Linked DNA regions of Homo sapiens. Changing the gene in region 1 together with any one later gene gives a genetic interaction. Each region holds a gene or a part of one and is shown on either strand. Other genes may lie near its edges. The genes, in order: ATG7, RCL1, HSD17B12, FIBCD1, KAT8, CARS1 and CAD.

Region 1 (4,356 bases):
AAGTGCTGGGATTACAGGCATGAGCCACCCTGCCTGGTCTGTAAAGTCATTTTGAAGATGTAGTGCACAGTAATTTTCCAGGTTTTCAGTGGTATTTGGTGAAATGCTAAGCCAGTAAGGGGGAATTATAGGAATATTTTGAAACACTGAAAGAATTTACCAAAATGTGGTCTTCATTTTCAATGTGGGGAAACATAAGGCAGTATAGTCTGGGAAAGAGTCTTTGAAACAAAACAGAAGGCATTCTCCTACCCTTGTACCAAGTTGCAGAACTTTTCTACCTGGAGCAGTACATGCAGAGTTAGTCGGTGACATTTGGGATAGATAATAAGTTCATTAGAGATGGTTCCCAGAAGAGCAGTTAAAATAATCAGGCTGGTATAACAGAGACCCTAAACTAGAGAATTCTTATTGTTGTTAAGGCAAAGATTATGTGTCAAGATGATTTGAATTCTTGAAACACATCAATCACTAAAGCCCTGAATACTGATGCCATCATTCAGGGAGCTCTCTTGGAGCTGTTCAGGGAGCAGCCATTATTGATTAAATTTTTTTTGTTGTTGTTCGTACAAATCCGAGGTTGTGGTTTTGTGGAACTAATTTCCCAAGAGGAAATATAAGTAAGGAAAAAGGATTTTGGCTGAGTATTGACTGCTGGCAGGTATGGGGTTTCTTTTATTGAGGACAAAAATGTTCTGTAATTATTGCTGTGGTGCTTGCATAACCCTGTGAACATACTAAAAAAACAAACAGCACATTGCATTATGTACTTTAAATGGGTGAATTGGGCCAGGCACGGTGGCTCACAACTATAGTGTAATTCCAGCACTTTGGAACGCAGAGGTGAGCATACCACTTGAGCTCAGGAGTTCAAGACCAGCCTGGGCAATATCGTGAAACCCCATCGCTATAAAAAATACCAAAAAAGTTAGCTGAGCCATGGTGGTGTGTGCCTGTGGTCCCAGCTACTCAGGAGGCTGAGGTAGGAGGATTGATTGAGCCCAGGAGGTCGAGGCTGCAGTGAGCTGTGATTGCCTGGGTGACAGAGCAAGACCCTGTCTCAAAAAGTAGTAAATGGGTGAGTTGTATGGTATGTTAGTCATGTCTCAGTAAAGCTGTTGAAGATTATGGAAAGGTTCGGGGTAAAATTCATCAGGGGTAGATTCATGTTGGGTTATCATAGGAGAGAAAGAATGTTTCGTTACCGCTCTAAAACTCTGATTGACAGCTTAGGGAACTACCATGTTGTAGTCCCTTTGTGCCCCTAAGACACACACCACCATGCCCCTGGAAAGTGTTATATAAAAGCTAAGTGGTATTATTTGGAGGCACTTCTATGTTCACTTGCTGTAATAGAGTAAGAGGAGTGTGATCAGTCATTTCTAGTCTTCTGGTTTTAAGGTACCTTTTTTTTGAGTTAGTTTTTAGCCCAGAACTAGAAATGTAATTTTCTAGAGAATAACAACGTGTTTTCTGTTTTCAGATTGAAGCACTAGAGTGTGCATATGATAATCTTTGTCAAACAGAAGGAGTCACAGCTCTTCCTTACTTCTTAATCAAGTATGATGAGAACATGGTGCTGGTTTCCTTGCTTAAACACTACAGTGATTTCTTCCAAGGTCAAAGGACGAAGGTCAGATAAACTTTGAGTATCATTTTATTATATAGTTTTTTAAAAAATCTGAAGTTCATGTTACAAGAGACCACTGCAAAATTCAAACTTGTTTAGATTTCCTTAGCCTTCAAAGGATGTTTAAGAACATTTCCTTATCTCTATCCTCTCCCACCCCTACAGTTATCGAATCAGCTCCTCTAGGTTTTTCTAGCTCTACTACAGCTCAGAATAATTTTGATACCTTACTCTTTTTTTTTGTTTGTTTGTTTGAGATGGAGTCTCGCACTGTTGCCTGGGCTGGAGCGCAGTGGCGCAATCTTGGCTTACTGCAACCTCTGCCTTCCTGGTTCAAGCGATTCTCCTGGTCAGCCTCCCGAGTAGCTGGGACTATAGGTGCCCGCCACCATGCCTGGCTAATTTTTTGTATTTTTAGTAGAGACAGAGACGAGGTTTCACTATGTTGGCCAGGTTGGTCTTGAATGCGTGACCTGCTTCGGCCTCCCAAACTGCTGGGATTATAGGTGTGAGCCACTGTGCCCAGCCAATACCTTACTCTCTATTAGTGCTAAAGTTATTTCCGTTTTCCCTCCTGATGTATTTTACCCTCTATGTTTTAATTTTTATTCCCAGAACTACCCTGTAGTTCAGGCCCCTCATATCACACTCCTGGACACTTAGAATCTTGTTTCCATGTTGTGCAACACTACTGTAGAAGAATCTCCCTTGAACTACCCACATTTAGTGTATCATTCATTGACCAAGAGCATAATGGTGTCTTCCTTCTGGCTCCAAGCTGCCTTTCCTGCCTTATCTTCCATTATTTTCCTCATAAAGCATTGCTCCAGCTAATCTTATCTATTTTTCTCCAGAATCTCCATCCCCTTCCCGTCAGATACATCTAAAACTTTTTTTGTATCTTTGTTTTTCCTCGTGTTGTATCATCTTCCTAAAACATGTTCTACTTGTGAAAACCCTAAGAAATTCTCTCTGTCTTATTGAAATTCTATCTCCACTGTGAAGCATTATCATGGTGTGGCCATATATGATCTATCCCTATCTGAAGTCACTGCATTTATTCCCTGATCCTCATTTGCAGGTCCAGTACCTTGTACAAGTTTCTTTTTGTGCCATATTAGACTGTAAGCTCCAAGAGGGCAGGGCCCAAGTCTTATGAATTTGTGTCTGCATAGTGTCTAGTACTTGTCTGAGGCCCTCAATAAAATTCTTTTGAGTGAATGAAAGAGTACCGTAAATGTCTTTTAGAAGTGATCAGATATATAGGAAGTTGTCTTAGCCATACAGGAGACTATGAATTAAAAATATCAAAGATTATGAGTGTTATGAAGTTCTGAAATCAAATGGAATCATCTCCATAGCCATGTGAATATATCAGAGCTGAAAAAAGGAAAGCCTTTAACTGACGGTCTGGTTATTCTTTAGCCTGAACTTAGGATGACTTTTTTTTTTAAAAGCACATTTTAAAATCAACTACATTTACATTTTATTTTTCAGAGGAAGCCCACCTCCCCTTTTTTGTTGTATTTTTATTAGAGATGGGGTTTCACCGTGTTAGCCAGGATGGTCTTGATCTCCTGGCCTTGTGATCCGCCCACCTCGGCCTCCCAAAGTGCTGAGATTACAGGCGTGAGCCACCACTCCTGGCCCAGAGGAAGCCCTTTTTAAATTGAGGACTGAAGATTGAATTTTTATTAAAATTCTTTCCCCCAGGTGATTTCACAGAACCACAGCTAAATTAGTATAGCAATAAGACCGTTAATAATTTAAAGTCCAATCTAGTGTGAAGTCCTCTTGTCATAGCAGGCAGGATTAAATGGCCTGTGTTTGGAAGCGACCGTAGGTCAGGTTGTATGTGGTAAATAAGTGGTCCTCCCCAAAGTGCAGCTCTGCCAAAATAATAACAGTTTGAACAGTGCTTTACAATTAATTTAAAAGGGACTTTCACATACTTGATCTTTTTATGATAAGTCTGTGAAACAAGCGTTAGTTACTACCTGTGGTTAGTTAATTAGTATCTGCATTTTCTGTTTGAGACTCAAAGTCACACGACCACATTGTCTGATTCCGAAGCCTATGCCCTTTCTTTCTTTCTTTTTTTTTTTTTTTTTTTTGTTTTTGAGGCAGAGTCTTGCTCTGTCGCCCAGGCTGAAGTACAGTGGCACGATCTCGGCTCACTGCAACCTCCGCCTCCTGGCTTCAAGTGATTCTCCTGCCTCAGCCTCCCAAGCAGCTGGGACTACAGGTGCGCACCATCATGCCCAGCTAATTTTTGTATTTTTAGTAGAGATGGGGTTTCACCATATTGGCCAGGCTAGTCTCAAACTCCTGACCTCGTGATCCTCCCGCCTCGCCCTCCCAAAGTGCTGGGATTACAGGCGTGAGCCACTGTGCCCGGCCACAAGCCTATGGCCTTTCTACCATTCCCTTGACCTTGGGGAAACTGCATAACTTTTCTTTGTATTAGTTTATCTGTTAAATGGTGGTAATGCCACCTCCTTATAAGGTTTTGTGAGGATTAAACATGATAATGTGAATAAAATGCTGAGCACATGGTAGATGCTCAATATGTATCCACTTCCTTTATGTTTCAACAGCAGTATATTTTGAAAGACAACAAATCTCTGGGGTCTCCTCTGAAGTGCTCTGAGGGATTCACCAGAAACCTGTCCCTGAGACTAACTGCCTGTCTGCTTGTCGGATTCAGGCACACTATCCTTCACTTG
Region 2 (4,356 bases), on another chromosome or scaffold:
AGACAAGGTAACTGGAGAGCAGGTTTCTTCCTCTCTTTTTTCTTTTTTTAGCATAGATTGATTACATTTTTACCTTTTGATTGATTGACTGCGCTGTAATGGTAATACCTTTGCCCTGAGCTGCCACTTAGGGTTTGATCTTTGCCTTTTCTCTCTGACCGCAGAGTGGACCGATCACTTTCCCTTAAGCAGAACTTACAGGCCACCATCACTCTGCTAAAACTAGAATGTGCAAAGCTGCAGGAGACTGGAGAGTGTTCGGCCCAGCCTCTCATTTTACGAAGGAGGAAACTGAGGCCCAGGAGACAGGGAATTGTCTAGGGTCTAACAGCCAGTGAGAGGCAGAGTAGGTCCCAAGCCCTCATCTGCTTTTCCTGCCCTTGTCCCACCGCACCAAGTTGCCTGTCTTCCATGTCATATGGAGAGTGATAAAGGGACAGGACTACACCTGGAATTACCCTTGGGCTTCTTGCTGAACTAAGTAAATTTGGCTTCACTCTTTGTGACTCAAGGTATAGGAAGGATGAGCCAGAAGGAATGCTGTGTTTTTTCACCTTTTTTTCCCTCGAGAGAGCCGGTGGCTGCCCAGAGTAACTGCAGCATTGCATCCCCTACTTTTTCAGAATCTGACTTGGCCTTCTCCCCAGCTGCTCTTAAGCCTCGACTGTATTCTTCTTTATCTGGCAACGCCAAATGCATATATTAAGTTTTTGAGTGTGCTTTATTTTTTTATTTTTAGAGAGAGGGTCTCACTCTGTCTCCCAGGCTGGAGTGCAGTGGCATGATCGTGGCTCACCAAAGCCTTGAAGTCCTGGGCTCAAGTGATCCTCCCACCTCAGCCTCTCAAGTAGCTAGGACCACAGGCGTGCAGCATGCCCAGCTTATTTTTTTTTAGTAGAGATGAGGTCTCACTATGTTGCTCGGGCTGTAGCTTTAATATTTAAAATTAGCTAATCTTCAGTGGTTTTCCTAGTTTCCCCTGCCCCACCTGATCCATTCTAAGCATGTTCTTAGGCCTCACAGGTCATTCCTAAGTCTGGTATTTTTCTGATATCACAATATTTAGTTGGGGCTTCTTAGCCTGTTAGAGTTAGTTGTAACTTGGAGATGGCTGGGCTTGAGCCCCTTGCCTTAGAGATAAGGAAATTCAGATAGTTGTGATTTTCTTGTCTGAGGCAACATAGCTAATTAGAAGCAGAGCTGGGACCAGGACTAGGGCTTTTCCTATGCCTTCTGTGTGGTGCCTGCCCTCCCTGCCAGCTGACAGATCCAAGAAGGGAACAAGTAATGGAGTAATTTTCTTTCCCATGTAGCAGTTGAGGCAACATTTGCCAACTCGTTAGATAACAGTACCTGATTTGAATGCCATCTTTCTACTCTTATCAGGAATCCACAAATGGATCAGAAAGACCCCAGACTTCCTGGGAGCTCTGAATGCAGGAGGAGATAACAGTTACACGTGGCAAAGTCTTGCCATTAACTATGGATGTTGTAACTAATTGTAGTTTTGAGTTTGTGCTGCTTCCTGTAGTTTGAGGCTGTCATCACCCCGACTCCCCAACTCCCATGTAAAATCATCACCTTCCCTTTAGCTGCCTGTGTGGTGCTCATCATTGGCATTCTTAGGTGAGCTGTTGAATAGTTAATTTGGTTTGCTTTGACTCGGAATGCTACCGGCTCTAAACATTAAATAACCCTACTGGACAAATGTTAATGAAAAAGATGATTTTCTTCTGTACGTTTATACCTATAAGAATGAGTAGGGTTCTCCAGGCTGGGTGTGGTGGCTCACACCTGTTATCCCAGCACTTTGGGAGGCTGAGGTGGCAGATTACAAGTTCAAGAGATTGAGACCATCCTGGCCAACATGGTGAAACCCCGTCTCTACTAAAAATACAAAAATTAGCTGGGCGTGGTGGCACATGCCTGTAGTCCCAGCTACTCAGGAGGCTGAGGCAGGAGAATCGCTTGAACCTGGGAGGCAGAGGTTGCAGTGAGCCTAGATCGCGCCACTGCACTCCAGCCTGGTGACAGAGCGAGATTCCACTCAAAAAAAAAAAAAAAAAAAAAAAAAGTAGGGTTCTCCATTTGTTTTCTACAACAGTCCAGTCTCTCCATGCTTTTTGCATGATGCCTCTGATGCACACGATGACTTTAAGGTAGGTGTTGGTCTCCATGTCATGAATGAGGAAAGTGCGGCTCAGAGAAGCCCAGTGGCCTGTGAAATCACAGTGTTCCTCAGGCAGAGCCAGCCCACTCGCTCAGTTATATGCCAGCATCCTTTCTGTTTACCACACTGCATCATCTACCTGGTTGCTAAGCCTTACTTGTTTTTTTTGACTCTTGTATTCTGCTGAAGGCTTAATTAAACTTTTCTTTTCTGAAATAATTTCATAGGTTGATGTTCTTAAGGCAACAGCACTCCCTTTGTTGAAACAATTTGGGATTGATGGTGAATCATTTGAACTGAAGGTAAGAATGTTTGAACTGTTGACCATATGTTCCTGTGGAAAACATTTTCCCACTGACTCATTGGAAGAGCTGTGTGACTCAGTGTATGTGTGTCACATTTGAAGTCACCAGTTATCAGAAGACTCACAGGGCTCATGAAATAAACACTACAGACTTTGAACTGAAAGGGACCCTTTAGTAATAACAATAGTAGCTGACAGTGATGTTGCACTTCTTTTGCGGTGGGGGCCGTTCTAAGCAGTTTACAAATACTAACTCCTTTTCTCCTCACAACAGCTCCGCCCATGTGCCTCAGCTAGCAAGCAGTGGAGAATAGATTTGGGCCATATTGGCTCTCTGATCTAAATGATCTGGATATAATTTATGTTCAGGGGCTCCCAACCTGGATGTCCCTGAGAATTTTCAGTATTTCCAAAATCTAGTAGAAGTAGTTTAAGCATCTGTATTTTGTTGAATTATATCAATCCAATGTGGTAAACCGTTTAGCATCTCTGCCTTTTACATTCATGTTTTAAACAGGGGAAATGACTTCATTTTTATTTAATAATGTTTTGGTAGATCCGTTATTTGCATGGGAGGAGAAAAAGGGGTTTCTGATTATTAAGAAATGGGCTCAGATGATGGACTAGGTCAGCTCTATATTTTAAGGATAAAGAAGTGACCTGTTCAGGGTTAAAGAGATGAGTGGCAGAGCCACTTGGGTAATCGACTTGGACTTTGACACATGCTGCACAGGTACTCTCTAGGAGCCAACATAAGGTGCTGTTGGTCTTGAAGGGAATGACAGATTGAATATGGAAGAGCTATGCCTTGTAAGGAAGCATCTGCTGGTGTAAACCTTCCTGGGCAGGGTGTCAGGGTAATCCATTGCTTTGCTGCATCCTCGCCTCATCTTTCTCACTCTCTGTGTAGATTGTGCGACGGGGAATGCCTCCCGGAGGAGGAGGCGAAGTGGTTTTCTCATGTCCTGTGAGGAAGGTCTTGAAGCCCATTCAACTCACAGATCCAGGAAAAATCAAACGTATTAGAGGAATGGCGTATCCTTTCCATTTATTTGGATTTCTTTTTTTTTTGTTGTTGTTGCCTCACTAAGATAAGAATGACTAACAGCTTTACTTCTTCCCGAGGTTATTTACATTTTAGACTACAACTTTGAAAAGTCTTAACAGTGAAATTGTAATTGCTGGCTGAGTTAGGATGTTCTGTTATCTGCCTCACCATGACTAGATTGATTGAGTCATTCTTTTTTTTTTTTTTTTTTTAATTTTCCGGTTAACATTTAGGCAAATGGCTCTGATGTATGTGATCCTCTCTCAAGGGCTTTGGTTTGGGGGCCATGAATATACTGCAGTTCCTCCCTCAGAAGACGTCATCATTCGGTGAAGGAACCAAATATGAAAACACACAGTTCTGATATAACATGCAAAATGATATGTGCAGTGGGGTGGGGGCCTGGAGTAGACAGTGGTCAATTTTGTCTGGAGGACCTAGGGAGGCTGGAGTAATCATAATGAATGATATCTACTATTAAGTATTTACTCTGCATCTACTTCAGTAGTCACTTTACATGCTTTTAAGCCTCACATTGACCCTTGAGTTCACTTACATCCTTTTTTGCAGATGGGGAAACTGAAGCTTCAAAAGCTTAAGGAATTTCTTAATAATGTCACACTGCTAATAATGACAGAGCTAGGATTTGAACCTGGTCTGTGTGACTCTAAAGTACAGGCATTTAATTTTTACTTTTGCCTATAGAAAGGAGCCTTGAAGAACAGAGGATTGCAAAGTAGAGCAAGAAAGGAGGAGGGCTTCAGGCAGAAAAGTGGGCCTGAGCAGAGGTGGCAGTGCACAGTGGTTCTAGGGAGTGGCAAGTAATGAAGTGTG
Region 3 (3,545 bases), on another chromosome or scaffold:
TTTTGTATTTTTTTTAGAGGCAGGGTTTCACCATGTTGGCCAGGCTGGTCTTGAACTCCTGACCTCATGATCAGCCGGCCTCAGCCTCCCCAAAGTGCTGGGATTACAGGCATGAGCCACTGCGCCTGGCCCGTCTGTGTTCAAATCTTATCTAGTATGCATTAGAACATAAAATCAAGTCAACATAAAGTTAAGTCTGAAATTTTTACTTGACTATTTTGAAGGTTTGGAGTATACTGTTTTCTCTTTTAACATAATTTTTCTTTTCATGTGCCTAGAAAAATACATTTTTACGTCATCACCTTCACCCTGGAGTGTCAAATACAAGTGGGTGCTTGCCAAGTTGAAGCAATCAAAGCCACAGCTCAGAAGTTTTGAAATTCTTAAGGGATTTTCTAGCCAGAATTACAACTGCTTTCTTTTTTTGAGACAGGGTCTTACTATGTCACTCAGACTGGAGTGCAGTAGTAGTTCAATCATAGCTCACGGTAGCTTCTAATCCCTGGGCTCAGGCAATCCTCCTGCCTCAGCCTTCCAAGTAGCTGGGACTACAGGTGCGTGCCACCACACCTGGCTAATTTTTTATTTTTTAATTTTTTTGTAGAGACAAGAGCTTGCTACGTTGCCCGGGCTGGGCTTGAACTCCCGGGCTCAAGCAATCCTCCTGTCTCAGCCTCCCAAAGCATTGAGTTTACAGGTGTAAGCCACTGTGCTTAGCCTACAACTATTTTCTAACTGGGATAAAAGAAAAAGAGAGTATTTTGTATACTTGCAAGAGAATCCCTCCTCTATCTACCACCACTACACTAAAACCAACTCACCAACCAACCAACCAACCAACTAACCAACCAATGTGTGAAAGCAGATAAAATACTGTCCAGGTCATTGTGGTGTCACCATTTCTACAATGAAATGAGAGGAAAAAAGGGCAAACAATGTGTTTTTCATAAAGCTATATATTTATTCAACTTAAATGACAACCTTTATTCTGAGATTACATTCTTCCTAATTTTAGGGGCTAAAATATATTTTCTTTTACATAATGATGCTGATAGCAGATGGCTATTTGTTTTTGTTTGTTTATTTTTGTTTTATGTCCTTAGCTGGCAAAATTAAAAGCCAGAAGCTAAGGCCCCATTTTTTTTTCTTTTAATACAAATCTACTGGTGCTGAAAACTCAGAGCTTAGGAAACACAGCCTAGGTAAAGACCAATCTTCTTGCTGCATATTTCACAGTATTGAATTCTTTCTTGGTGAGTTCTCCATACAAGTTATGAAGCAGGATAAAAGTCAGTCTTATATTAAGTCATTGTAAATACGGCCTTAATTTCAATCACCAAAGAAATGTATTTTTGTTGTATACCATGGTTGCAGCATGTTTTATTAAAACTAATTATATCAATAGCTACCTGTAGAGTATCAACTTAAAAATTATAATGCCATTTCTATGAAGTCATTACTTTTATAGGACTAGCCTGTGTCATATGTGTGATCAATATTGGTTTAATGCAGAAACAAAGGCAGCTGGGTGTCCAAGCAAGCCACTTTTCTGGGTCAGGGTTTCAGTGGTACCATAGATGGCTGCCAGTCTCAATGTACACTTTGGCCCATTTATCTTTATAAATCATACCATATAGCTTCGATATTTACATACATTTAAACTGAGAAGAAATATGCATTATAAGAAAGCATAGTTTAGTGGGCTTCATGTGTCAGAAATAATTCCATATTTCACAATTATTTTCATGTCATTAGCTACCCTTGATAAAGAACAATTCCATATAAATGTACAAACTGGAAGATAATTTTATAAAACCGTAAAGAGATCTTTGTAAATTGCAGTGTGTCTGCTTATAAACAAATCAAATCGATCTCCATTTCTTCAAGTGTCAAAAACAAAAGAGTAGCTGGACATTGGTTTTTATAATCAGTTTCAGAGAAAATACAGGAATAATGATCAATGGCATTTTGAAGCAGATAAAACTGCCAAGTTTTATGCTTGAGTCTATCATTCTGTGATTTGCTATAATAGTATTCCTTTCTATTAGGTGTTCCCGACAATATTAGTTCTATATTCATTTGATATGAGCATTTATATTAAACTTCAAAATTACCTCGGATAGTATCCAGAATATATGTCAGAAACCCCTAAAAGCAACTTCTATTTTCCTCTTAATTAAGATAATATTTAGTCATGTTAATAACTATTGAAATGACAAGGTCAGATTTTCAAAACCAGTAGGGTGCTTTGCAGTGAACGTGCATATGCTGGAGCATCTGGCCAAGTTACAATGCAGTTATCAATGCTTAGTTCTTCTTGGTTTTCTTCAGATAGTGAGCCCGTGTAGACTTGTTCATATTCATGACTATTTTCAAATAAATCCAAGAAGGCAGGTTTGAGATTATCGAGCCCTAGGGAAACAGAATGAGAGAGATATGTAATTATAGCCTACAATTTGGGCTAAATTGAAGCATATGATTTAATGTTTTATTATAGTGTTGTTTTTATTTATAGGTAGATTTTAAAGTTCTTGGGTATACGACCATTATAATTATAACAAGATATAGATATCTTGTTACTATGGCTGGACAATGTATATGTGCTAATCTATTACATACTATCCTGTAACTCAATGGGAAAGAAACCCCAAGCCAGAAAGTATTGATTTGTGATTCAAAAAATCTACCTACCATAAGAGCATGGATCAGGTATCCATTGGTTCGGGATTGCAGGCCGACTGTTTTAATTGCAGACTTCACAAACGTCTCCGGAGAGGGCTTATCCAAAGTTGGCTTCCGGATTTTAGCCAGTTTTGTAGCTACGAAGTATGGCAGGACACTCTAGAAAGGGAACACCCACCCCAGAAAACATGCCATTGATTAGTAAGGCCACAAACTCAGAATGTACAGTGGTGCTTGACTGCTCTTAGTGGTAGAAACATCTGTATCTTTACAGAGAGAGAAGAAAAGAGAAGTGGCTATCTAAAGCCAACTTGATAGAACACATGATACCATAAAACAAATTGTAACAAATCAATCTCTCAATAAAACAGAGTTTGAGACCAGAGAAAGTATTAAAAATAAGCAGAAATCTACCTTTTTGAACCTTTAAAAAGGAAAGCATTAAATAATCCAGAGAGCACAGATTCAGGATAGGATACTTTTCACACTTAGTAAACTCAACATTGAGACAGAACCACCAAGTAGGAGATCTTTGATACTTTATTCTTCTAATGGGATAATGCCAACTTTCTCCATAATTTATGGCTAATTAAGCTTGTTCTATCAGCTTTGATCCTTCTAAAATAGACATCTTATTTCTCAGACTTGCGTTACTACTTTTCTTCCCTAGTTTCTCACCATTCTACTTCTGAGTTTTATAAACAATTTTATTGATAAGATAGAACCACCTCCCTTTTTTTCTTTTTTAGAAGAAACACAGTCTAACAATATGGAAACTGTTTGGGTAACTAAAAGACACCTGACTGGATGGGTGTAGGGTGACAAATCTGGACATGACCTTTAGAGGAACTTCAATAATGTTA
Region 4 (4,356 bases), on another chromosome or scaffold:
TGGACTAAAGCTGTCAACCTAAAACAACACTAGAAAAACAGAAGAAAAGCCTGGGCGCGGTGGCTTACGCCTGTAATTCCAGCACTTTGGGAGGCCGAGACGGGCAGATCACGAGGTCAGGAGTTCGAGACCAGCCTAGCCAATATGGTGAAACCCCTGTCTGTACTGAAAATACAAAAATTAGCCGGGCGTGGTGGCGGGCGCCTGTAATCCCAGCTACTTGGGAGGCTGAGGCAGGAGAATCGCTTGAACCCGGGAGGTGGAGGTTGCAGTGAGCTGATATCATGCCACTGTACTCCAGCCTGAACTACAGAGTGAGACTCTGTCTCAAAAAAAAAAAAAAAAAGAAAGAAAAGAAAAACAGAAGAAAAAATAGAGGAGACTTAAAAAAAAAATAAAACTAGGAAGGGAAGGAAAGGAAAGCAGGGGCTAAAACCCAGAAAAGATACAAAGAAAAGGGTGGCAGAACTGAGTGCATAAACATCTTAAATTTCTAGGAAATAAATAATAACATGACCCCACAAAAGAAAAAGAAAAAGCTGAAAGACAAATGGCCAGAAGTTAATACCTATCATGTGTTGGACAAATGATCGGTAACCTTAATATATAGAGAGCTTCCATGACTCGATAGGAAAAGACAAAGCACTCATTGAGAGGGGATGGGGAGGGTGGTGCGGCAGAGGAGGGACTGGCGCTGTTGACATTCCTGTCAGGGCTCGTCTGCAGGATGCTGGAATGAGGACCTGCTTAAATGCTTCCTCCCGCATCATCTGCAGCTGCTGATAGATTTCAATTAAGATACCATGAGCACGGGCATCACCGCTGCTCCAGGGGGTGGGTGGTGGCGAGGGCATGCCTTGGCCCTGCCGCCTTGTCCTTATCTTTACCCCCAGCTTGGGGAGCCTGAGGCAGGGTCTCCCCATCTCCCCTCCTTCCACCCACCAGGTTCGGGGATGAGGCGAGCTGGGTTGGGCGCCAGTGTGTAGACCCTGCTGGGGCTCCCCCAACCCCAACACACGCAGGCTTGTGACAAGGGACCTCCCTTTCCTAAGCCTCAACTTCCTCATCTCTAAAAGGAGGGGACGACAGCAGGGCCCCCAACTAGGTGGGTGTGAGGCTTTGGGGACGATGCATGGGAAGCGTGTAGCTGGGTGCTCAGTGGGTTGGGGGTCAGCACGGGGTGTGGGCATGAAGTCCACACGGGGTGTGACCTTCCCTGTTGTCGGCACCCCCTGGGCACCAGGGCACGGCAGGTCAGAGAGGGCCCTGCTCTCATGGGCCCCGGTGAGGAGGGGGCATGGGTGGCAGATCTTGCCCAGGGGCCTCCATGCACACAGAGGGGCGGCCCCGCCTCACCACCCCAACCCTGCCTTTGGGGCCCCCGACCCCCCATCTTCCAGGGGTGTCACTGAACATCCTTACAGGCCTGGAGCCCTCCTGACCCCGGCTGGTGCCCAGACCTGCGCTCTCAGCCTCTCAGGTGGTGCTTCCCGCCAGGCACGCAGGCCCACCCTCTCCTTCCCGCCTAAGCCTCCCTACCAGCTCTGACCCCGCTCGCTCGCAGGGGAGTTCCTCAGATGTCCACACCCTTCTCACCCTCTCCCTCCACCACCAGCTCTGCCCCGCACTGGGGAACTCCCGGGATGTCCTCACCCTTCTTACCCTCTCCCTCCCTCCCACCCAAGGCGCCCCCTCCGCCGCCCCTCGCCCCCAACCCCCACAGCTTGTGGAACTCCCTGGATGTCCGCACACACCCGGGGGGCTTAAGTGCAGGAGGACACTGTGGGGCATTCGAGGCCGCCCAGATGACACTCGGGGCACACATTCCCCAGCACCTGTGCGTTTCATGTATATTCAAAACCTGCAAGGAGTGACTGCTCCCGGGGGTACAGGGTTTCCTTCTGGAGTGAGGAAAAGGTTCTGGACCCAGTGGCAATGGTTGTAATATTCTGAATATACTAAAAACCACAGGGTCATACACTTCCACACAGGGAATTTTGTTGTATGTAAATTATATCTCAAGAACAACCAGAAAAATCCACCTCATTTCAAGCCATAGCCACTTCCCAAATATATATAGGTAGATAGGACCTCAAAGTTGTGATTCTTTTAGGATGTTTTGTTAAGATAAATGTTTTGTTTAGATAAATGAAGTTTTGTTTAGAATATTTTGTTTAGATAGTGAAATGTTAAAAAAAAAAAAGAAATGTTAAGGACTTTCAAAAATTCTAAAATACTGAGTGAATTTAAACATAGGTAATGATATTGACAGAACCTTCTGAGCTCCTACTTTGTGCCAGGCAGGGACTGTGTCCCAGTGGCAGGAAGGCGTGCGGTTGCCTCCAGGCCCAAACAGGAGCCCTGGCTGGTGAGAGGTGACAGCGTGCTGGCAGTCCTCACAGCCCTCCCTCGCTCTCGGCGCCTCCTCTGCGTGGGCTCCCACTTTGGCGGCACTTGAGGAGCCCTTCAGCCCACCGCTGCGCTGTGGGAGCCCCTTTCTGGGCTGGCCAAGGCCGGAGCCCACTCCCTCAGCTTGCAGGGAGGGGTGGAGGGAGAGGCGCGAGCGGGAACCGGGGCTGCGTGCGGCGCTTGCGGGCCAGCTGGAGTTCCAGGTGGGCATGGGCTTGGCGGGCCCCACACTCAGAGCAGCCGACCAGCCCCGCTGGCCCCGGGGCAATGAGGAACTTAGCACCTGGGCCAGCGGCTGTGGAGGGTGTACTGGGTCCCCCAGCAGTGCCAGCCCACCGGCGCTGCACTCGATTTCTCACCGGGCCTTAGCTGCCTTCCCGCGGGCCAGGGCTCGGGACCTGCAGCCCGCCATGCCTGAGCCTCCCACCCCCTCCGTGGGCTCCTGTGCGGCCCGAGCCTCCCTGACGAGCGCCACCCCCTGCTCCACAGCGCCCGGTCCCATCGAGCACCCAAGGGCTGAGGAGTGCAGGCACACGGCGCGGGACTGGCAGGCAGCTCCACCTGCAGTCCCGGTGCGGGATCCACTAGGTGAAGCTAGCTGGGCTCCTGAGTCTGGTGGGGAGGTGGAGAGTCTTTATGTCTAGCTCAGGGATTGTAAATACACCAATCGGCACTCTGTATCTAGCTCAAGGTTTGTAAACACACCAATCAGCACCCTGTGTCTAGCTCAGGGTTTGTGAGTGCACCAATCAACACTCTGTATCTAGCTGCTCTGGTGGGGCCTTGGAGAACCTTTATGTCTAGCTCAGGGATTGTAAACACACCAATCAGCACCCTGTGTCTAGCTCAGGGTTTGTGAGTGCACCAATCAACACACTGTATCTAGCTGCTCTGGTGGGGCCTTAGAGAACCTTTGTGTCCATACTCTGTATCTAACTAATCTGATGGGGAGGTGGAGAACCTTTGTGTCTAGCTCAGGGATTGTAAACGCACCAATCAGCCCCCTGTCAAAACAGACCACTGGGCTCTACCAAGCAGCAGGATGTGGGTGGGGCCACATAAGAGAATAAAAGCAGGCTGCCCCAGCCAGCCTCGGCAACCCGCTCAGGTTCCCTCCTGCGCTGTGGAAGCTTTGTTCTTTCACTCTTTGGGTCCACGCTGCTTTTATGAGCTGCAACACTCACCGTGAAGGTCTGCAGTTTCACTCCTGAGCCAGCTAGACCACGAACCCACCAGAAGGAAGAAACTCCGAACATATCCGAACATCAGAAGAAAAAAACTCCAGGCGCGCTACCTTAAGAGCTATAACACTCACCACGAGGGTCTGCAGCTTCATTCTTGAAATCAGTGAGACCAAGAACCCACCAATTCTGGACACACTCAGCACCACTGGCCACTCTTGGGAGTTCCATGCCTGGTGTCCCTGGCACCCTTGGGCAGGGTGGGGCCGGGTCCTCCTCTGTCCTCCTGCTGCCTGGGATGCTGCTGACCACCTGCCCAAGCTGGCTTGATTCAGGACAGCCAGCAGGTCCCAGGGTGACCCCGGCAGGAAGTGGCCTCCAAGGGCATGTGGGACCCTCAGCCTTTATGAGCACTGGGAGCCCACCCACGCTGACACTTCCGTTGGCAATGTCTGGCCTCATTCCTTCTGAATGCCTGTCACCTTCATGCATGACACCTGTGAGCTGGCTCAGGTGTGCCGAGGCCAGGGAAACCCAGCCCAAACCCATTCAGGGAGCAGCTGGGACCCAACTGTGTCCGGAAGGCAGGGGGAGGAGGCCCACCTGGGCCGGATGGTGGGTGGGGTGCTCACCTAGCCAGTGCTCCCCGGTGAGCCTGCCAAAGCCGTCTCGGTACGCATCCCAGCCCCGGAAGAAGTTCACGGAGCCGTCCTCCCGGCGCTGAAACACCTGCAAAGGGAAGATGGGGATGGGGCGTTGGCACCGA
Region 5 (4,356 bases), on another chromosome or scaffold:
TCTCAGCTTCCCAGAGTGCTGGGATTACAGGCATGAGCCACTGCACCCAGCCGACATTATTTCATTTTGTTCCTCACAATGAGCCTTTGAAATAAGAGTGCTCATTGTCCCTGTTGTATGAGAGAAAACTGAGGCACAAAGAGGTGAGGTCACTTGCCCAAGGTCACAGAACTGGTACTCAGCAGAGTTGGGCATGGGCCCCTGGTCTGTCCAATTCTGAACCTAACCACTGTAAAGATGAGGAAGAAAGATTTTCCTCCTCACACATCTCTTTAAAACACATTTCCCAATTCTCACAAAATACAGTACTCTTCTGCAAATGCAATAAAGAACTACAAAAACACTACTTTTCTTAATTGTTGCAATTTATTTAGAATTAAACATTAATTAGGCTCTGAAGAACCTTGCTGATTGTTAACTGGATGATTGTTTCATTACCTATTCTTTGATTTTATCACCACTGGCCCGTTATCCACCCTGCTGGTTGCCAACTCAGAGGTATGTCTTTGTTGAGTGCAAAACAGTTGAGGAATTAATCTTAGATCTACACTGTCCAATAAAGTAGCCACTTGTCACATAGGGCTATTTAAAATTATACTCAGCTAAACGTGGTGGCTCACGCCTGTAATCCCAGCACTTTGAGAGGCCGAGGTGGGAGGACCACTTGAGGCCAGGAGTTCCAGACCAGTCTGGCCAACATGGCGAAACCCCATCTCTACTAAAAATAAAAAATAAAAAATAGCTGGGTGTGGTGGCACACGCCTGTAATCTCAGATACTTGGGAGGCTGAGGCACAAAAATTGCTTAAGCCAGGAAGGCGGAGGTTGCAGTAACCCAAGAGCTCGCCACTGTACTCCCGCCTAGGTGACAGAGTGAGACTCTGTCTCAAAAAATGAAAATTTTGGCTGGGCACGGTGGCTCACACCTGTAATCCCAGCACTTTGGGAGGCCGAGGCAGGCGGATCAGTTGAGGTCAGGAGTTTGAGGCCAAACATAGTGAAACCCTATCTCTACTAAAAATACAAAAATTAGCCAGGCATGATGGTGCGTGCCTGTAGTCCCAGCTACTTGGGAGGCTGCGGCAGGAAACTCACTTGAATCTGGGAGGCGGAGGTTGCAGTGAGCTGAGATCGCACCACTGCACTCCAGCCTGGTTAACAGAGTGAGACTCTGTCTCGAAAAAATAAAAATAAAATTTTTTTAAAAAATGATAATTAATTTTTTTTTGAGACAGTCTTGATCGGACACCCAGGCTGGATGGAGTGCAGTGGCATGATCTTGGCTGACTGCAACCTCCATCTCCTGGGCTCAAGCGATTCTCCTGCCTCAGCCTCCTAAGTAGCCGGGATTACAGGTGTGCACCACCACGCCCGGCTAATTTTTGTATTTTTAGTAGAGATGGGGTTTTGGCCATGTTGGCCAGGCTGGTCTCAATCCCCTGACCTTAAGTGATCCACCCACCTCCGCCTCCCAAAGTGTTGGGATTACAGGCGTGAGCCACTGCACCCATAATTTAAAAATTTTTTTTTTTTTGAGACGGAGTCTCACTCTGTCACCCAGGCTGGAGTGAGCCCAGGATCTCGGCTCACTACAAGCTCCACCTCCCGGGTTCACGCCATTCTCCTACCTCAGCCTCCCGAGTAGCTGGGACTACAGGTGCACGCCACCACGCCCGGCTAATTATTTTGTATTTTTCAGTAGAGATGGGGTTTCACCATGTTAGCCGGGATGGTCTCGATCTTCTGACCTGGTGATCCACCCACCTTGGCCTCCCAAAGTGCTGGGATTACAGGCGTAAGCCACCGCGCCCAGCTAAAATTCTTAATTCTTCGTCACACTAGACACATTTCAAGTGCTCAACAGCTACATGTGGCTAGTGGCTACGGTACTAGATAGTACAGCTATAGAACATTTCCATTACAATAGGAAGTTCGATTCGGCAGTTTAGACCTTGAGGAGTTCTTCCAGTTTAGGGTATTTCAATTTTTTAAATCACACCACAGTAGGAAGTACACTTGGCACTGTAACATGTCTGTATATACACACAAGTATGTGCTAGGATCATCGGGAAGGTAAGGCTGGAACAAGAGGAATCCTGCACACTTTTATTGGGTGTGAAATAAAAGCTTCTCAAAACAATACCTACACTTAATAAAGTGCAACACCCTGATTTTTCTATCTTATCCACTTTCTTTCTTCCATTTAAAGAAATTTAAATGTTGGGCTTGCCCACTAACTCATGTACTCAGAAGGATGAAGCTGCAATAGCTGAAAGTAACAAATGTCTGGGTGTCTGGAGACTTTGACAAATCTTGCTCTGGTGTGCACTCCTGATTTTTATAAATTTAGAAACTGAGACTTGGTCGGGCGCAGTGGCTCACACCTGTAATCCCAGCACTTTGGGAGGCTAAGGCAGGAGGATCGCTTGAGACCAGGAGTTTGAGACTAGTGTGGGCAACATAGCAGATCCCGTCTCTACAAAAAAATAAAAAATTAGCTGGGCATGGTGGCACGTGCCTATGGTCCCAGCTACTCAGGAGGCTGAGGCAGGAGGATTGCTTGAGCCCAGGAGGTTGAGGCTGAAGTGAGCCATGATTGTGCCACTGCACTCAGCCTAGACGATAGAGTAAGACGCTGTCTCAAAAAAAAAAAATAACAATAATATGTACAATTATTAAGTATCAATACAAGAAAAAACCAAGGCAGGTACAGGGATGCACTCCTGTAGTCCCAGCTACTTAGAAGGCTAAGGCAGGAAGAACATTTGAGCCCAGGAGTTCAAGTCCAGCCTGAGCAACACACCAAGACTCCCGTCTCTTAAGAAAAAAACCAAAATCATTGCTAAGGCCTCTGGCTCTGAGGTAGCACAATTTAGCTGGTTGATCAAATTCCTGTCTGGGTCCCTAAACTTATCTGTAGCTCTTCTGCATGCTTACTTCACAGGCCTACTGTGAAATGTCAGTGAGGTCATGTATTAAAACACTTAGCTTAGGCCGGGCGCAGTAGCTCACGCCTGTAATCCCAGCACTTTGGGAGGCCGAGGTGGGCAGATCACCTGAGGTCAGGAGTTCGAGACCAGCCTGACCAATATGGCGAAACCTCGTCTCTACTAAAAATACAAAAATTATCCGGGCGTGGTGGCAGGTACCTGTAGTCCTAGCTACTTGGGAGGCTGAGACAGGAAAATTGCTTGAACCCAGGTGGCGGAGTTTACAGTGAGCCGAGATCATTCCACTGTACTCCAACCTGGGCGACAGAGCAAGACTCCGTCTCAAAAAAAAAAACAAAAAACAAAACACACACACACACACACACACACACACACAAAAACCATTTAGCTGAATACTTCTGCTCACCGGCTAACAAGTGTTTGGCATTATTATTCTAATTCCAGCCCACCGTTTTACTGGCTGTGTGACCTTGGGCATGTTACTTAATCTCTCTCAGCCTGCTTCCTCACCTACCAAAAAAGTAACTATTCCTGTGTGTTGAATTGTTGGGAAGGATTTGAGGAGCTTATACATATACAGCACTTGGCAGGGTGCTTGGCTATAGCAACTGCCGAATAACATTCTCGTCTTTCCCACTGAACTTCAAGTCATTTTTTCTACTAAGACACAGCTACTAGGAGACAAAAGAGGCTACCAGTGCCGGAGGCCTGAGTTCTAGTCCCAGCTGTGCCATTTCCTTGCTGTGAGACTGCAGCGAAGCCCTTACCCTCTGTCTGTTTTCTTACCTATGAAAAGTAAGTAAGAGGAAGTAGGTAAAGTCCCTGACACACTACAGGAGCTTAAGAAATGGGATTTGCTATGGTTTTGGCACTGGGGCCCGAGAGACCCAAGGGAACTGGCAGAGAAGCTGGGCCTCCTGGGCCCGTGGATGGGAAGGGATCCGGACCTTCTGCACATGGTTGATCTCATCATGCTTGCGCTTTTGGTTGCGAGTGATCTTGCGCTCAGGCTGCTCTGCGAGCTCGCTCAGGTACTTCTCTGAGTTCTTCTGTACAGCATCCTTCACTGTCTTGGTCAGCGCCAGCCGGTTCTTGTCTACCCACTCGTCCAGCCGCCGGTTAACTGTAAGTATGGGCCATAAGAGTGCTGCCAGGGCAGCCAACTCCCTGCACCCACGCCCAGATGTGCCAAGCCACTCACAGCCCACGTAGTGTACATAGAATTCCTCTCGGCCCTCCTGGTCGTTCACTCGAGACTGGATCACTTCAGCAGAATCTGTGATGGAAAAAGGCTAGGGTCATCAGGAAGGTAAGGCTGGAACAAAAGGAATCCTGCACACTGAGAAGCAGTTTCCAGAGTTCAGGGCCACACATCAGCTAACCTCACTGGTCCACCTCTGCCATTC
Region 6 (3,354 bases), on another chromosome or scaffold:
AAATGTGATTTTCAACTCCCCAAACTTGTTCCTCCTTCCTGCCATGGAGGGCGTGCCTACCTGATAGCTCCACTGGGCTGGGAAGCATCTGAAACCTAGGCTGTCCAAAGGAAAGGTGAAAATGTGATTTTCAACTCCCCAAACTTGCTCCTTTTCCGTCAGTGGAGGGCATGTCTGTTCGTGCAATGGCTCAGGCCAGAACCTCCCAAAGCAACCGAGGGCTTCCCTCACCGGCACCCAGCCTGCTGGCTCCACTAATAAGCTCTCCCTGCAGCATCAGACTGTCCTCGCCCCTGCCCGGGTGCTGCCTGCTGGTTGGAGTGGGCTCTGGTCTCCTCACCTAGCCCCCAAGGCTGCCCTCCGCCCACCATCCCCATCCTGCCCTGGCGCTCTTGCTCCTTCCCAGGTACCCCAAGACCCACTCAGGATAACCCTCACAGTGCTGTCCTGGTCATTGCCTTACAGATCCTCTCTCCTTGGGCCAGGCTCACCATGCTGGTCCATTTCTTCATGTTAGTGGTGCCTGGATCTTTTAGCATTGGTTCTGTTTGTCTGCCTGCTGCATACCTTTGCATCTAGGGCAGGGCCAGGCACCCAGGGGTGCCGCTGAGGATCCCCAAAGGGAATGGAAGAGGGTCGGTGTGCTGCCCGGCACATGGGCTTGTCTCCCCACAGTGGGGAGGGCCTGGTCAGAGTTCAGCCCTCCATGCCAGGCCCTAGGAGAGGGGCTTGTTTGGCTAGACCTCTCACTCCGAGAGACCCAGCAGCCTGAGGCAGCCCTGTCTCATCTGGCTCTGTATTGACCCTCCAGGTTGAAGAGGAGAAGAGGAAGAAGAAAGAGGAGGCGGCCCGGAGGAAACAGGAACAAGAAGTAATGCATTTTGTTTGGGGGTGAGGGCTCTACTGGGCAGGAGTGCACCCTGACCCCATGCCCTGTGGCTCTCTGTGCCTCCGTGGACCTTAGCCAGGCCCCTGCAGACCCTCACAGAAGGAGCTCCGCTTTCTGCCTCCACCACCCAAGGCCTGCCAGGCCCTTCTCACATGGGGTGCAGGGAAGGCCTGGCCAAGGGGAAGGCTGTGCCATGTGGTCACAAGCTCCAAGACAGCGTTTATAGACTTACTACTATTAGGTTTTCTAGTAAGCTTTCCACTATTCCTGTAGAAATAACATCTGGTTTAATTTTAAATTCCTTGTATGTTCCCTCCACCTTGGCTTTCCCCTTCCCATCTTTCATAGCACTCTGAATCTGAGGGCTTGGAAGCAAGTTGAGGGCTGGAGGTATGAGCAGATGTCGTTCACAGTGCGGAGCCCCAGGTGCTGCTCGGGGGCAGTGACTGTGCCGTGTTGCGTGTTCTAGGCAGCAAAGCTGGCCAAGATGAAGATTCCCCCCAGTGAGATGTTCTTGTCAGAAACCGACAAATACTCCAAGTTTGATGAAAATGTAAGCATGTAAGCATCCTTCTCTTCTATTCAGAACTTGATCAGACCACATTAAAGTGGGAGGACAGGAATTTTCAACCTTGGACAAGCAGATTTTCTGTCTGTAGAAAATTTGGAATCAAATCTGACACCCGCTTTAGGTCCAGGGCCTCCTGGCCCAACTACTGAGCTCCTTCCACAGCCCAGGCAGCTAGGCAAGCCCGTGCCAGGGCCCCCTCCACTGGTGTGGTGAGCTCTGGTCCCTAGCCCTGGGAGTTGTGGCCCCGGGCCAAGATCCACCCAGGCCCTCACAAGCTGGCTGAAGTGCCGTGGCGCAGATAGGCCTCCTACCCCCAGTTTCTTCCTTTGTCATAGCGATTCACAGCCACTGCCTCCAAACCTCTAGGCCCCTCCCTGCTGGCATTTGGATGTGTTTGCTATGTACCTTTGGGCCAGCTGTGTCAGAACTCAGCCATGGGTAGGCTCTGAGGGGCACAGTGCCCCTCACCTTAGGCAGGAAGCACCCCCAGACTCTGGTCGCCCCTCTCCCATTCTTAGCTGCTGGAGCCAGCACTGCCAGATGAGTGTGCTGGCTCCAGAGCAGTGTGGTGACTGAATGTCCAAGCAAGAGGACATGGCTGCATCAGGGAGATAGACACTTTGAGACGGGAGGGCAAAGAAAGGGGAGTTGGGGTTACCCAGGTGCAGAGGAGACCAATAGCCGCTGTGCTCTGGGTTTTCAGGGTCTGCCCACACATGACATGGAGGGCAAAGAGCTCAGCAAAGGGCAAGCCAAGAAGCTGAAGAAGCTCTTCGAGGCTCAGGAGAAGCTCTACAAGGAATATCTGCAGATGGCCCAGAATGGAAGCTTCCAGTGAGGGGGCACAGGACTGACTTTTTAAACCATTGTGGACTAGTGGCTGCTGTCTGCCTCAGTGACAATGTCCCAGCGCTCCTATCATGTTTACAGTCACCCTTGGGTCCTAAATTAAGAGTTGTGTTCATGTAGGTTCGTGTCGTCGTTGGCTCTGAGACATTGATAATAAATTTTTCTCAACAGTGAGACCCTCTCTGTCTTGTTCTGCATGTTCAGCACTTGGCAGGAGGCCTGGTGGCCAGCCAGGGCCGCTTGGTCAGCAGGTCACAACTTAGGTGCTTGGGTCAGTTGAGCTGCTTCAGCTGGCCGAGGAATTTCTCCCCCATGCTGATGGCTATCGGCTAATCTCTGGTGTGTGGGCACATTGGGAGGTATTTGAGTAGGAAAAAGACAGGCTCAGACTGGCAGAGCCTGCTGAGCCCTAGACAAAGGCCGCTCAGTCTGCCCTCGGGTTCTGATGAATAAACACACTGCAGGTTTTCCTAGAGCCGTTCCATACTGGGCAGCAGCACAGCGAGTGGCTCAGCAGGCAGGCCCCTGGCGAGCTGCCCAGAACTGCCGCTGGAGACAGCAAGTCCAGGATCTGCATGGCTAATGAGTGAGTTGTGGGGGTGGTCTCAACACAGCAGGGGCCTTCTTGTCCCCAGTGCCCAGTGTTGTCCTTGCCACCCTGCCTCCACACCTGGTTCACCTGGACTAAGAATCACCACCCAGACGCGAAGGTGCTTACCCATCCTTGGCTGAGGAGGGCGTAAGCAGAAACCACAGCCTGCTTCATGCCTGCGGAAGCTGGTGCCAGGCCATATCCATCGGGACAAAAGACAGTCATTGGTGCTGTGGACATCCAGGGGGGGACACTCCATCCAGTGCATGTGGATGGTGGCAGCAGCCTCAGCATGGGGAGTGTGGCAGTGTTGGGTTGTGGGTGCGCCAATTCTTTGTCCTTGCCCTCCGCATGCGCATGCTGTTTACTGCAGTAGTGTGTGACACAGCAAAAGGCTGGAACCAGCCTGTCTGTGCATCAGCAGGGTGCTTGGCACAGCTTGAGAGCACCCAC
Region 7 (4,356 bases), on another chromosome or scaffold:
GCAGGAGAATCTCTTGAACCCAGGAAGCAGAGGTTGCAGTGAGTCGAGACCGTGCCATTGCATTCCAGCCTGGGCAACAAGAGCGAAAGTCCATCTAAAAAAAAAAAACCTATGAACCTATGAAGAAAAGTCCAGAAAGAGAAACTCTAAAATGATTGTTGTAAATGTGATTTGCTCTGCATGGATGAGTAGTAAGGATCATCTTCCTATTATCTACACTTTTTTAAAAAGTTTTAAAGAATTCCAGTTGGTGTTATGATTATGTGAATAAATCAAACCCAATAACTGGACAGCCATCAGTGGTTTGGGCCACTGTGATAAACTTCCAGTATCCAGTGTATGGGGATATATTCCAGTATCCCCATGCCCGTTTTAGGCATATTGATTCCATATTCATCAATAAGCACAAAGCCTGAGCTTATCCATGAAAATAGCAGGGAAAAGAGCTATAAGTTAAGATTTCTTTTTGTTTGTTTGTTTGTTTTGTTTTGTTTGAGACGGAGTCTCGCTTTGTTCCCCGGGCTGGAGTGCAATGGTGTGATCGCTGCTCACTGCAAGCTCCACCTCCCGGGTTCACGCCATTTTCCTGCCTCAGCCTCTGGAGTAGCTGGGGCTACAGGCGCCCGCCACCACTCCCGGCTAATTTTTTTGTATTTTTAGTAGAGACGGGGTTTCACCATGTTAGCCAGGATGGTCTCGATCTCCTGACCTCGTGATCCTTCCGCCTCAGCCTCCCAAAGTGCTGGGATTACAGGCGTGAGCCACTGCGCCCGGCCATTAAGATTTCTTAGTTGTGAAACACCATGAATCCCACCATCATGTGACTTGCCTTGAGAATCTCCCAGAGTCTTGACTATAAACCATAAGCATTATGGGCAGTGCCTTCTTCCCACCCCTTCCACCTCCACACCTTCATTCCTTCCATTCTGTTCTTCCAGGTGAAGTCATGGGCATTGGGCGTTCATTTGAGGAGGCCTTCCAGAAGGCCCTGCGCATGGTGGATGAGAACTGTGTGGGCTTTGATCACACAGTGAAACCAGTCAGCGATATGGTAAGTAGCTCCCCTCCCCTGGCAATACCCCTAAAATAGACCCTGCTTCTCATCGCCCCCAGACCATGAGCTTGTTACCAGTAACACTAGCAGCAGTCATCATTGGACATTTGCTTTGTTTCCACTTTGCTGAGAATTTTGAGATGTCTCATTAGCACGCAAGGGTGTATTACTAGACTTGTTTTTACAGATGAGGAAACTGAGACATAGGTTATAGAAATTACTCAAAGCCACATAGCCAATGAGAGGTAGACCCAGGATTGGTATCCAGGTTTTTGCAGTTACACAGCCTGTGCTCTGGTGTACAGTTTCCCCTTCCTGAGACAAGAGCAGCTACTTACGCTCAGGCTTTTAGATGGGCTGGCAGTAGCTTCCGTCTGTCTACCCCCTTTCTATCAGGAGTTGGAGACTCCAACAGATAAGCGGATTTTTGTGGTGGCAGCTGCTTTGTGGGCTGGTTATTCAGTGGACCGCCTGTATGAGCTCACACGCATCGACCGCTGGTTCCTGCACCGAATGAAGCGTATCATCGCACATGCCCAGCTGCTAGAACAACACCGTGGACAGCCTTTGCCGCCAGACCTGCTGCAACAGGCCAAGTGTCTTGGCTTCTCAGACAAACAGATTGCCCTTGCAGTTCTGAGGTCAGAGGTGGCAATGAGAGCTTCCGGCTGGGAAATGTGGGGCAGAACCTTTGTATCAGTGAGGGACCCTTGGGAGGGAGGAAGGAGAGTGTGGGAGAGCTTTAGAGGCTTCTGACCTTGGTTCCAAGGATATTTCCTCTCATCTGTGCCCTGGGGTCTCAACCCTCTATCAGTCTGTACCCTACTCTCTGGGCCTGTGTTTCAGACCCTTTTTCTATTTTAGCACAGAGCTGGCTGTTCGCAAGCTGCGTCAGGAACTGGGGATCTGTCCAGCAGTGAAACAGATTGACACAGTTGCAGCTGAGTGGCCAGCCCAGACAAATTACCTATACCTAACGTATTGGGGCACCACCCATGACCTCACCTTTCGAACACCTCATGTCCTAGTCCTTGGCTCTGGCGTCTACCGTATTGGCTCTAGCGTTGAATTTGACTGGTGTGCTGTAGGCTGCATCCAGCAGCTCCGAAAGGTCAGAGAGTTCATTTTCTTTCCACTTTCCTTGCTATTCTGTTCATCTCTAGCAATTGCTTGGCACTAATCCTGGCATTTCCTATTAATTGCCGTCCCTTACTTTGGTCATAGAGCTTTGGGGTGGGGGTCCTTTTAGGCCATCTCTCATGCCCCACACGGTATATGAATCTCTTCCCCAACACTTTGTACCTCCTTCCCTCCCAAGGCAGGGGTCCTGTACAGCTCTTTCAGAGGAAGCTGTGCTGGCAGTCTCTGAAGTAGGGGCTTTGGCTTAGTTTCTCCACGATTTTCTCCACGATTTTCCTCCCACCTGACTGCTAAGTACCCTTCCCCTCCCTCTTGCAGATGGGATATAAGACCATCATGGTGAACTATAACCCAGAGACAGTCAGCACCGACTATGACATGTGTGATCGACTCTACTTTGATGAGATCTCTTTTGAGGTGAGGGAGATGGAGGCTTCCTGGTAGCTTGAGTGGCCAGGGTCGAGTAGAACAGCTGGCTGACCTAAGATTCTTTGAAACTTGGTGGCGGCTGAGGGAAGCAGTGAGCAGGAAGGCTCAGATTCCTGCCCTCTTTTGCTGCCACCACTTGTTTCTCCCCCTGCAACGTAGGTGGTGATGGACATCTATGAGCTCGAGAACCCTGAAGGTGTGATCCTATCCATGGGTGGACAGCTGCCCAACAACATGGCCATGGCGTTGCATCGGCAGCAGTGCCGGGTGCTGGGCACCTCCCCTGAAGCCATTGACTCGGCTGAGAACCGTTTCAAGTTTTCCCGGCTCCTTGACACCATTGGTATCAGCCAGCCTCAGTGGAGGGAGCTCAGTGACCTCGAGGTGGGCTGGGACCTGGTGGGTTACCCGGAGGCTGGATGATGCTTGGGGGAAAGTGTGAACAACTCAGCTAAGCTCCCTGCCTCCTGTAGTCTGCTCGCCAATTCTGCCAGACCGTGGGGTACCCCTGTGTGGTGCGCCCCTCCTATGTGCTGAGCGGTGCTGCTATGAATGTGGCCTACACGGATGGAGACCTGGAGCGCTTCCTGAGCAGCGCAGCAGCCGTCTCCAAAGAGCATCCCGTGGTCATCTCCAAGTTCATCCAGGAGGCTAAGGTGGGAGGCTGCAGACAGTGAAGTCTCTGAGGGCATGCTGCCAGCCCTGGAGGAGACTTCCTTCTCTGGTCCAGCAGAATCATAGGCACCAGGGCTGGGAACAGTGGGCTATGTGGGGCTCGTTAAAGGAAGAGACAATCCTAGAGTAAGTGAGAGAAGAAAGTGGCCCTATGTCCCACTGTCTGTGTCCCCCCGCTAGGAGATTGACGTGGATGCCGTGGCCTCTGATGGTGTGGTGGCAGCCATCGCCATCTCTGAGCATGTGGAGAATGCAGGTGTGCATTCAGGTGATGCGACGCTGGTGACCCCCCCACAAGATATCACTGCCAAAACCCTGGAGCGGATCAAAGCCATTGTGCATGCTGTGGGCCAGGAGCTACAGGTCACAGGACCCTTCAATCTGCAGCTCATTGCCAAGGTAATAAGGCTAAAGGAAAGAACTAAAGGGCCACAGCTCTTGCATGTTCTGTGCTGGCCACAGTGCCATGAAGCCCTGCACTGTCTCCTGCCTTCATCCAAGTAGGCAGGGAAGCTGGAGGGAAAGGGCTGTAGCTAGAGCTCATGGTGTTGGGGCTTATGACAGTCAGTGACCCTGAACCCTGCTCAGTCTGATCCCCCAGAGCTGAGGACGGAGAGGAAGAGTCTAGGCCTATAGATAGTGTCAGCAAGGCCAACCTGCAGAAGGCCTGACCAGTCTTCTCTGCCCCAGGATGACCAGCTGAAAGTTATTGAATGCAACGTACGTGTCTCTCGCTCCTTCCCCTTCGTTTCCAAGACACTGGGTGTGGACCTAGTAGCCTTGGCCACGCGGGTCATCATGGGGGAAGAAGTGGAACCTGTGGGGCTAATGACTGGTTCTGGAGTCGTGGGAGTAAAGGTAAGGAATATCGAAACCCTTGGGGTTAGCAGAAAAATAGCGGGAGAGAGTTCACTCACCACACAGAGTTGTCAGTATGTAAACCAGGCACTGACTGCAAGGCATTGCCGGATCGTGGGGGTAATGAGGTGGTCATTGTCCCTTAAGAGCTTACTTTATGGTAATGGGAGGGAAGAGAAGTTGGATCCCCAAAAAAGCTT

What was found.
Region 2: of ATG7 (region 1) and RCL1, changing one suppresses a phenotype caused by changing the other (phenotypic suppression), as found in Homo sapiens cells (one large-scale study listed by BioGRID).
Region 3: of ATG7 (region 1) and HSD17B12, changing one suppresses a phenotype caused by changing the other (phenotypic suppression), as found in Homo sapiens cells (one large-scale study listed by BioGRID).
Region 4: of ATG7 (region 1) and FIBCD1, changing one suppresses a phenotype caused by changing the other (phenotypic suppression), as found in Homo sapiens cells (one large-scale study listed by BioGRID).
Region 5: of ATG7 (region 1) and KAT8, changing one enhances a phenotype caused by changing the other (phenotypic enhancement), as found in Homo sapiens cells (one large-scale study listed by BioGRID).
Region 6: of ATG7 (region 1) and CARS1, changing one suppresses a phenotype caused by changing the other (phenotypic suppression), as found in Homo sapiens cells (one large-scale study listed by BioGRID).
Region 7: of ATG7 (region 1) and CAD, changing one suppresses a phenotype caused by changing the other (phenotypic suppression), as found in Homo sapiens cells (one large-scale study listed by BioGRID).

What each region holds. Positions count from the first base shown.
Region 1 is NC_000003.12:11,313,861-11,318,216, forward strand, and holds part of ATG7 (ubiquitin-like modifier-activating enzyme ATG7), read left to right. Parts: intron 1-1,483; coding exon 1,484-1,633; intron 1,634-4,356. UniProt on the Homo sapiens protein: E1-like activating enzyme involved in the 2 ubiquitin-like systems required for cytoplasm to vacuole transport (Cvt) and autophagy.
Region 2 is NC_000009.12:4,830,757-4,835,112, forward strand, and holds part of RCL1 (RNA 3'-terminal phosphate cyclase-like protein), read left to right. Parts: intron 1-2,397; coding exon 2,398-2,472; intron 2,473-3,384; coding exon 3,385-3,509; intron 3,510-4,356. UniProt on the Homo sapiens protein: As part of the small subunit (SSU) processome, it plays a role in 40S-ribosomal-subunit biogenesis in the early pre-rRNA processing steps at sites A0, A1 and A2 that are required for proper maturation of the 18S RNA.
Region 3 is NC_000011.10:43,854,011-43,857,555, reverse strand, and holds the end of HSD17B12 (very-long-chain 3-oxoacyl-CoA reductase), read right to left. Parts: intron 2,842-3,545; coding exon 2,692-2,841; intron 2,413-2,691; coding exon 2,308-2,412; 3' UTR 941-2,307; downstream 1-940. UniProt on the Homo sapiens protein: Catalyzes the second of the four reactions of the long-chain fatty acids elongation cycle. This endoplasmic reticulum-bound enzymatic process, allows the addition of two carbons to the chain of long- and very long-chain fatty acids/VLCFAs per cycle.
Region 4 is NC_000009.12:130,907,570-130,911,925, forward strand, and holds part of FIBCD1 (fibrinogen C domain-containing protein 1), read right to left. Parts: intron 4,320-4,356; coding exon 4,223-4,319; intron 1-4,222. UniProt on the Homo sapiens protein: Acetyl group-binding receptor which shows a high-affinity and calcium-dependent binding to acetylated structures such as chitin, some N-acetylated carbohydrates, and amino acids, but not to their non-acetylated counterparts.
Region 5 is NC_000016.10:31,120,056-31,124,411, reverse strand, and holds part of KAT8 (histone acetyltransferase KAT8), read right to left. Parts: intron 4,227-4,356; coding exon 4,152-4,226; intron 4,074-4,151; coding exon 3,898-4,073; intron 1-3,897.
Region 6 is NC_000011.10:3,000,058-3,003,411, reverse strand, and holds the end of CARS1 (cysteine--tRNA ligase, cytoplasmic), read left to right. Parts: intron 1-811; coding exon 812-871; intron 872-1,237; coding exon of another isoform or gene 1,238-1,270; exon of another isoform or gene 1,271-1,358; coding exon 1,359-1,442; coding exon of another isoform or gene 1,443-1,450; exon of another isoform or gene 1,451-1,519; intron 1,520-2,163; coding exon 2,164-2,298; 3' UTR 2,299-2,483; downstream 2,484-3,354. UniProt on the Homo sapiens protein: Catalyzes the ATP-dependent ligation of cysteine to tRNA(Cys).
Region 7 is NC_000002.12:27,230,530-27,234,885, forward strand, and holds part of CAD (multifunctional protein CAD), read left to right. Parts: intron 1-938; coding exon 939-1,051; intron 1,052-1,450; coding exon 1,451-1,695; intron 1,696-1,918; coding exon 1,919-2,165; intron 2,166-2,512; coding exon 2,513-2,611; intron 2,612-2,782; coding exon 2,783-3,007; intron 3,008-3,096; coding exon 3,097-3,279; intron 3,280-3,478; coding exon 3,479-3,697; intron 3,698-3,988; coding exon 3,989-4,156; intron 4,157-4,356. UniProt on the Homo sapiens protein: Multifunctional protein that encodes the first 3 enzymatic activities of the de novo pyrimidine pathway: carbamoylphosphate synthetase (CPSase; EC 6.3.5.5), aspartate transcarbamylase (ATCase; EC 2.1.3.2) and dihydroorotase (DHOase; EC 3.5.2.3).